Linked DNA regions of Homo sapiens. The protein of the gene in region 1 purifies or fractionates together with the protein of each later gene. This does not show direct contact. Each region holds a gene or a part of one and is shown in the gene's direction. Other genes may lie near its edges.

What was found. The genes of interacting proteins can lie anywhere in the genome.
Region 2: the proteins of WDR37 (region 1) and SGF29 purify together in Homo sapiens (affinity purification with mass spectrometry; 5 studies listed by BioGRID and IntAct, with this or other methods). This does not show direct contact.

What each region holds. Positions count from the first base shown.
Region 1 is NC_000010.11:1,104,885-1,108,384, forward strand, and holds part of WDR37 (WD repeat-containing protein 37), read left to right. Parts: intron 1-241; coding exon 242-383; intron 384-3,500. UniProt on the Homo sapiens protein: Required for normal ER Ca2+ handling in lymphocytes. Together with PACS1, it plays an essential role in stabilizing peripheral lymphocyte populations.
Region 2 is NC_000016.10:28,577,920-28,581,419, forward strand, and holds part of SGF29 (SAGA-associated factor 29), read left to right. Parts: intron 1-3,135; 5' UTR 3,136-3,150; coding exon 3,151-3,225; intron 3,226-3,500. UniProt on the Homo sapiens protein: Chromatin reader component of some histone acetyltransferase (HAT) SAGA-type complexes like the TFTC-HAT, ATAC or STAGA complexes.

The sequences.
Region 1 (3,500 bases):
GGGTCAGAAAATGGGTTATGCACCTGTTTGGTTTTCTGTTCCTTTGACATGGACGGCTGAAAGGACTTCAGCTTCTGAGGGAAAACCTGCCCCACTGTGACCCACATGCTGCTGAGTGATTCCATTAGGTCAGGTTCACAGTCTCAGAGAGACGGCTTCTTGGGTTCTTGTGCTGTTGAAAAGCGTCTCTCTCAGCGTGCTCCTCAGGTGATGACCTTGTGTTTTGCCATCTTGGTTACAGGGCACGACCAGGAGTTGACGCACTGCTGCACACACCCCACCCAGCGGCTCGTGGTGACCTCCTCCCGTGACACGACTTTCCGCCTCTGGGATTTCAGGGACCCCTCCATCCACTCGGTGAATGTTTTCCAGGGACACACGGAGTGAGTTGCGGTAGTTTAGACATCTGTCCTTAGTCATGAAAAAGTTCTGTGGGTTGACATGAAAACTTAATTCTAGCCTTAATTTTCAGTATTTCCGACTCTACTATCTTTCAAAAAAATAACTACCTTTCAAATTCTGCTATTCTTTTTCTAAACATTTAGCTCCATTTTGGCTATTTCAAAGGATGTAGGAGATTAAGAGAAGGCACCCTCCGAAGTTCTCTCAAGAAGTTTAATGCAGACAGAATGGGGGAGTGGGTGGAGAGGGTTAGAGAAGAGCAGGGCTGCCAGAGCCTGTAGCTGAGCACAGGGGCCGGCCACGCCACCATAGGAGCCGCGGGAGCTGTTACTCCTACCCACGGGGTGTCTCCTGGATCTTTTCCATCTAGTTTTTGTTATTACACGTGTCTGCGTGGTATATTCTGGGAGAAGGTATACACATAGACGCGCAAACACAGACATAGACCCTCAATCCAGTGTGTCCCTCTCTGCTTGGGTTTCTCTCCGGCAACTCAAGTGTAAGGTCTTTTTTTTCTGAGACGGAGTCTCGCTCTGTCGCCCAGGCTGGAGTGCAGTGGCGCTATCTCGGCTCACTGCAAGCTCCGCCTCCCGGGTTCACGCCATTCTCCTGCCTCAGCCTCCCGAGTAGCTGGGACTAGAGGCACCTGCCACCACGCCTGGCTAGTTTTTTGTATTTTTAGTAGAGATGGGGTTTCACCGTGATAGCCAGGATGGTCTCGATCTCCTGACGTCGTGATCCGCCTGTCTCGGCCTCCCAAAGTGCTGGGATTACAGGCGTGAGCCACCGCGCCCAGCCGTGTAAGGTCTTAACAGAACTCTTCAGTTCTTTCCGTGACCGTCTCCTTCCCCCAGTCTGGCCCTGCTCAGTCAATGATGAGACCGTCTGCCCAGTCACGGGGGCTGTCTACCTAGAGTGTTCCCTGGTTCTTCTCTTTTAATCTCTGTTCCCCGTTCCCCCATCATGCCCCACTGTGGTCCACTGGCAAGTCTCCTGCCAGCCATGCCTGTGGGATCTTCCCGGCCGCTCCTCGCTCCTCCATGCTCCCCCTACCTCCCACCAGTGCTGCTCTCCACCCCGACGTCTGGATAAGCAGTGTGCATTGAAAGGTTTATAAATGAACTCCAAATATGAAAATCTGTTTTATATGTTTAACGTTAGTTACTAAGTTTTAGATTTAATGTTCAAAATGTTAGTAAGATGTTGGAAAGGAAAATAGGACTTTTTGTTTGTTTGTTTGTTTGTTAATAGACGGAGTCTCTTTCTGTCGCCCGGGCTGGAGTGCAGTGGTATGATCTCGGCTCACTGCAGCCTCTGCCTCCCGGGTTCAAGCGATTCTCCTGCCTCAGCCTCCCTAGTAGCTGGGATTACAGGCGCCCACCACCATGCCTGGTTAATTTTTGTATTTTTAGTAGAGGTGGGGTTTCACCATGTTGGTTGGGCTGGTCTTGAACTCCTAACCTCAGGTGATCCGCCTGCCTCAGCCTACCAAAGTGCTGGGATTATAGGTGTGAGCCATCGCGTCTGGCCAGGACAACGTTTTTAAAAAGAAGCTTGAGATTGGAAAGCTAATTCCTTGACTCTGAGGCTGGAACGGGAGCAGGCAGCAGTCACGACCATGCGTAGAGATCTTTATGGCAGCCTGGGTCTGTTCTGGGGGCATCACACGCATTAAACTGCTCCGTCCTGACATCAGGTCAGCGTTTATTCTGCCAGCTCCGTCAGCGATAGCCATAGTAATACAGACCTCCCGGTGGTCAGTGGCTGAACGCAGCACTGTGTTGTTGCTGCATCAGGGTGCAGCAGGCGCTGAGCTGGGCCCCCATGAGCTCCGCCACATGGGCCTGACCCCGCTGCAGGCCAGCTCATTGGTGAGGAAGATGCTGCAGCTCGGGGAGCGCTGCTTCCCATGCATGTTAGCTTGGATGTGGTGCTCCCCGACGTCCACCAGATGCAGAGGGGCCCCACAGCAAAGCCCTGGCTGGACCTGGGCCCACCACCTGGCACCACTGTGTAGGGCGGGGCAGAGGGGCCCGCATGACTGCCCTGCTGTTTCTCATGAGAATTCATTGGAAGGGCAGTCGGAGGCCTAGAGGACGGGAGGAGCAAGATGGTCTCACTCCTGCGCCTGCAGTGCTTTCCTAAGCTTTTTGCTTAGAAAAGTTTCAAGCCTACATAAAAACCAACAGAGTAGTACAGTGTACCCACAAACCCTTCACCTAGGTTCGCCTGTTGTATTGCAGCACTGCTGTCTCTTTACACATGTGTACACACCTCTCTCTGAAACACACGCCCACTAACCCTTCACCTAGGTTCACCTGTTGTATTGCAGCACCGCTGTCTCTTTACACATGTGTACACACCTCTCTCTGAAACACACGCCCACTAACCCTTCACCTAGGTTCACCTGTTGTATTGCGGCACTGCTGTCTCTCTTTACACATGTGTACACACCACTGTCTGTAACACACAACACGCACTACCCTGTCACCTAGGTTCGCCTGTTGTATTGCAGCACTGCTGTCTCTCTTTACACATGTGTACACGCCTCTCTCTGAAACACACGCCCACTTCCCCTTCACCTAGGTTTGCCTGTTGTTGTATTGCAGCACTGCTGTCTCTATTTACACATGTGTACACACCTGTCTGTAACAGACACGCCCACTTATCCTTCACCTAGGTTCACCTGTTGTTGTATTGCAGCACTGCTGTCTCTGTAGATGTGTACACACCTCTGTCTATAACACACACTTGTATATTTTCTTTGGCTGAGCCCTTTGAAAGGAAAACTCCAGCATGCATTTTCTAAGAATAAGGATGTTCTCCTAATACAGTACCATTGTTCAAATAAGAAAATTAGTAAAAATTCTATGGCATCCTTTATCTGGTCCACATTTAAATTTACTCAGTTCTCCCCAAAATGTCTTTGATACTTTTTTTAGAGCTAGGATTTAATCAGGATTCTCTCATCACATTTAGATATTATGTCCTTTGGCTTCTTTTAATCTAGAATGGTCCTTCCCCCATTTTTTGTTACTTTTTAGGATATTGAGTTTTTTGGTGAAGAATCCAAGCCTGCTCTTTTGCAGAACGCCCCT
Region 2 (3,500 bases), on another chromosome or scaffold:
ATTAGTCGACCATTTCTGGTTTCTCAGTTCTATTCCATTGAACTAGATGTCTTTGCTTACAACATCTTGATTACTGTAGCTTTCTTTTTTTAAAGTTAAAAAATTTATAAAGTAGAAGTGGGGCTCAGGCTCGTCTGGTGGCCTAGGCTCGTCTGGACCCCTGGCTGCAAGTGATCCTCCCGCCTCAGCCTCCCAAAGTGCTGGGATTACAGGCGTGAGCCTCTGGGGCCTGGCCACAATTGAGTTTTGTTTATTGATCTCGTATCCTGCAACTTTGCTATGAGTTCTAACCTTGTCTTAGTCCTAATAGTTGTTTAATGGATTCCTTAGGGTTTTCTATATACAAGGTCATGTCATCTGCAAATAGAAATAGTTGTACTTCTTCCTTTCCAATGTGGATGCCTTTTATTTCATCTTATTGCCTCATTGCCCTGGCGAGAGCCTCCAGAACAATGTTGACTAGAAATGACAAGGGCCCATGCTCATCTTGTTCCTGACTTAGGGGAAAGCTTTTAATCTTTCGCCTTTAAGTCTGATGTTCGTTGTGGGTTTTTCATAGATGCCCTTCATCAGGTTGAGGAGGTTACCCTCTATTCCTAGTTTGTATGTTATTATACTTTTAAATAGCAGCAGCAGAGCATGTAAGAAGATATGAATAAATACATGGCGAGAGGTTCGCAGTTGATTAAGTGGGGGGAAGAGTTTACTCCATTCATCGTGAATCTGATCTCTGTGAGTAGGAGGATGTGTTAGTTGAACAACTTTAAAAAAAAAAAAAAAAAAGAGGGCGAGGTGGGTGGATCACGAGGTCAGGAGTTTGAGACCAGCCTGGCCAAGATGGTGAAACCCCGTCTCTACTAAAAATACAAAAAATTAGCCAGGCAAGGTGGCGGGTGCCTGTAATCCCAGCTACTCTGGAGGCTGAGGCAGGTGAATCGCTTGAACCCAGGATGCCGAGGTTGCAGTGAGCAGAGATCGCACCGCTGCACTCTAGCCTGGGCGACAGAGCAAGACTCTATCTCAAAAAATAAATAAATAAAAAATAAAAATAGAGACAGGGTCTTGCTGTATTGTCCAGGCTGATCTCGAGCTCCTGGACTCAAACCATCCTCCTACCTTCGCCTCCCAAAGTGCTGGGATTACAGGTGTTAGTCACTGCCCCCAGCTTGAACAAACTTTGTAAGATGCAGGCTATTGTGCAAAATTTTAGCACTGTAAAAAATATCCCCTTATTTTATCAAATATACCTTTATCTTGAGGCATATGTCTATTTTCACCTACTTGTAACTTACACTCTTGATTACTTTTGGTTGTCTTTTTACTCTTGTTCTAATTATCTTTTTTTTTTTTTTTTTTTGAGACGGAGTCTCACTCTGTCGCCAGGCTGGAGTGCAGTGGCGTGATCTCGGCGCACTGCAACCTCCATCTCCCGGGTTCAAGCAATTCTCCTGCCTCAGCTTCCTGAGTAGCTGGGACTACAGGTGCCCACCACCATGCCCAGCTAATTTTTGTATTTTTAGTAGAGACAAGGTTTCACCATGTTGGCCAGGATGGTCTTGATCTCTTGACCTCATGATCTGCCCTCCTCGGCCTCCCAAAGTGCTGGGATTACAGGCATGAGCCACCACGCCCGGCCCTAATTATCTTTTATTGTACAGAAGCATTTTATTTTCATCAGAGTACATTCATCTTGATTGAGATATTTTACAGTAGTTTCTCTCCCCATGCTGGCTGGGCGTGGTGGCTCACGCCTGTAATCCCAGCACTGTGGGAGACTGAAGCAAGCAGATCACCTGAGGTCAGGAGTTTGAGACCAGCCTGGCCAACATGGTGAAACCCCATCTCTACTAAAAATACAAAAATTAGCTGGACATGGTGGCACACACCTGTAATCTCAGCTACTCAGGAGGCTGAGGCAGGAGAATTGCTTGAACCTGGGAGGCAGAGATTGCAGTGAGCCAAGATCACACCACTGCACTCCAGCCTAGGTGACAGGGCAAGACTCCCGTCTCAAAAAAAAAAAAATTATCTTCCCACTATAGTAAGAAAGTAACAGCGTTTTATGACTTGGAAAGTGTCTTCATATAAAATCTTATTTGAATCTCCCAAAATATAGCAGAGATGATCCCCATTTTACAGATTAAAATATGGATACCAGAAATGTTTGAATCATTTGTCAGGATATTGGCAGCAGAGCAGGGGCTAAGGGCATGCTATCTTTTTAAGGCACTTCATATTAATTTTTGTATTTATATACAAAAATTATACACTCCTTGACTCCTTGACTTCGTCGAACATATGACATTCAAACATATCAATAGGGTGGAGGAGAATCCAAGGATAGCTTGCCACTGTATTCATTTCTTATGGCTGCCATAACAAGTTACTGCAAGCTGGGTGGCTTAAGACAAGAGAAATTTATTCCATCACAGTTCTAGGGGCCATAATTCCAAAATCAAGATGTCAGCTTGGTTCCAAAGACAAGGGATTGTTGCTTCTTGGAGGCTTAGACGGGGCCGTTACTCCGCGCATCTCTCCCGGCTGGATGGGTGGCTGCCGGCAGTCCTTGGCATCCCCTGGCTTGCAGCTGTCCAAGTCCAGTCGCTGCTTCTGTCTGCACCTGGCTGTGTGTCTGGATTAAGGGCACACCCTATTCCACTATGACTTCATCTTAGTGACATCTTAAATACTTCTCCAAAGACCCTAATTCCAAACAAGGTGACATTACAGGTACCATGGTTAGGACTACAATGTATCTTTTTATTATTACTATCTTTTAAAGGGATAGGGTGTCACACTGTCATGTAGGCTGGAGTGCAATGGCACGATCGTAGCTCATGCAGCCTCAACCCCCTAGGGCCTAGCGATCCACTCACCTTAGCTTCTCGAATAGCTGGGACTACAGATGTGTGCCACTATGCCGGGCTAAGTTTTTAATTTTTTTGTAAAGACGGGGTCTCCGTGTTGCCCAGGCTGGTCTTGAACTCCTGGCCTCAAGCAATCCTCCCGCCTTGGCCTCCCAAAGTGCTGGGATTACAGCATGAGCCTCCAGGCCTAATGTATCTTTTGAGGGGGCACAGTTCAGCCCACAGCAGCCACTAACAGAGTTCTCTTCTGTCCTCGCTCCCCCACCAGGTGCCCCTGTAGACAATGGCCCTCGTGTCTGCCGATTCCCGCATTGCAGAACTTCTCACAGAGCTCCATCAGCTGATCAAACAAACCCAGGTAAAAAGTCACCACCCTCCATTCCCAGATGGGAACATGGGCTTTGATGCTGAGCCGTGAAGTGGGGGTGGCATTTGTGTTCAGAGAGATTGGACTCGCAGGAACCAAAATGACGTAATAAAAGTGAAAGGAGGGGAATTTGGTGTATGGCTACCATTCCTGTTGGATTTTCTACCATGTACAGGATTTCATGATTCATTTTGTTTGACAGCTATCCTGAGATAGAATTCACATGCCATACAACGCACCCATTTAAAGTGTATAATCCAGTGGTT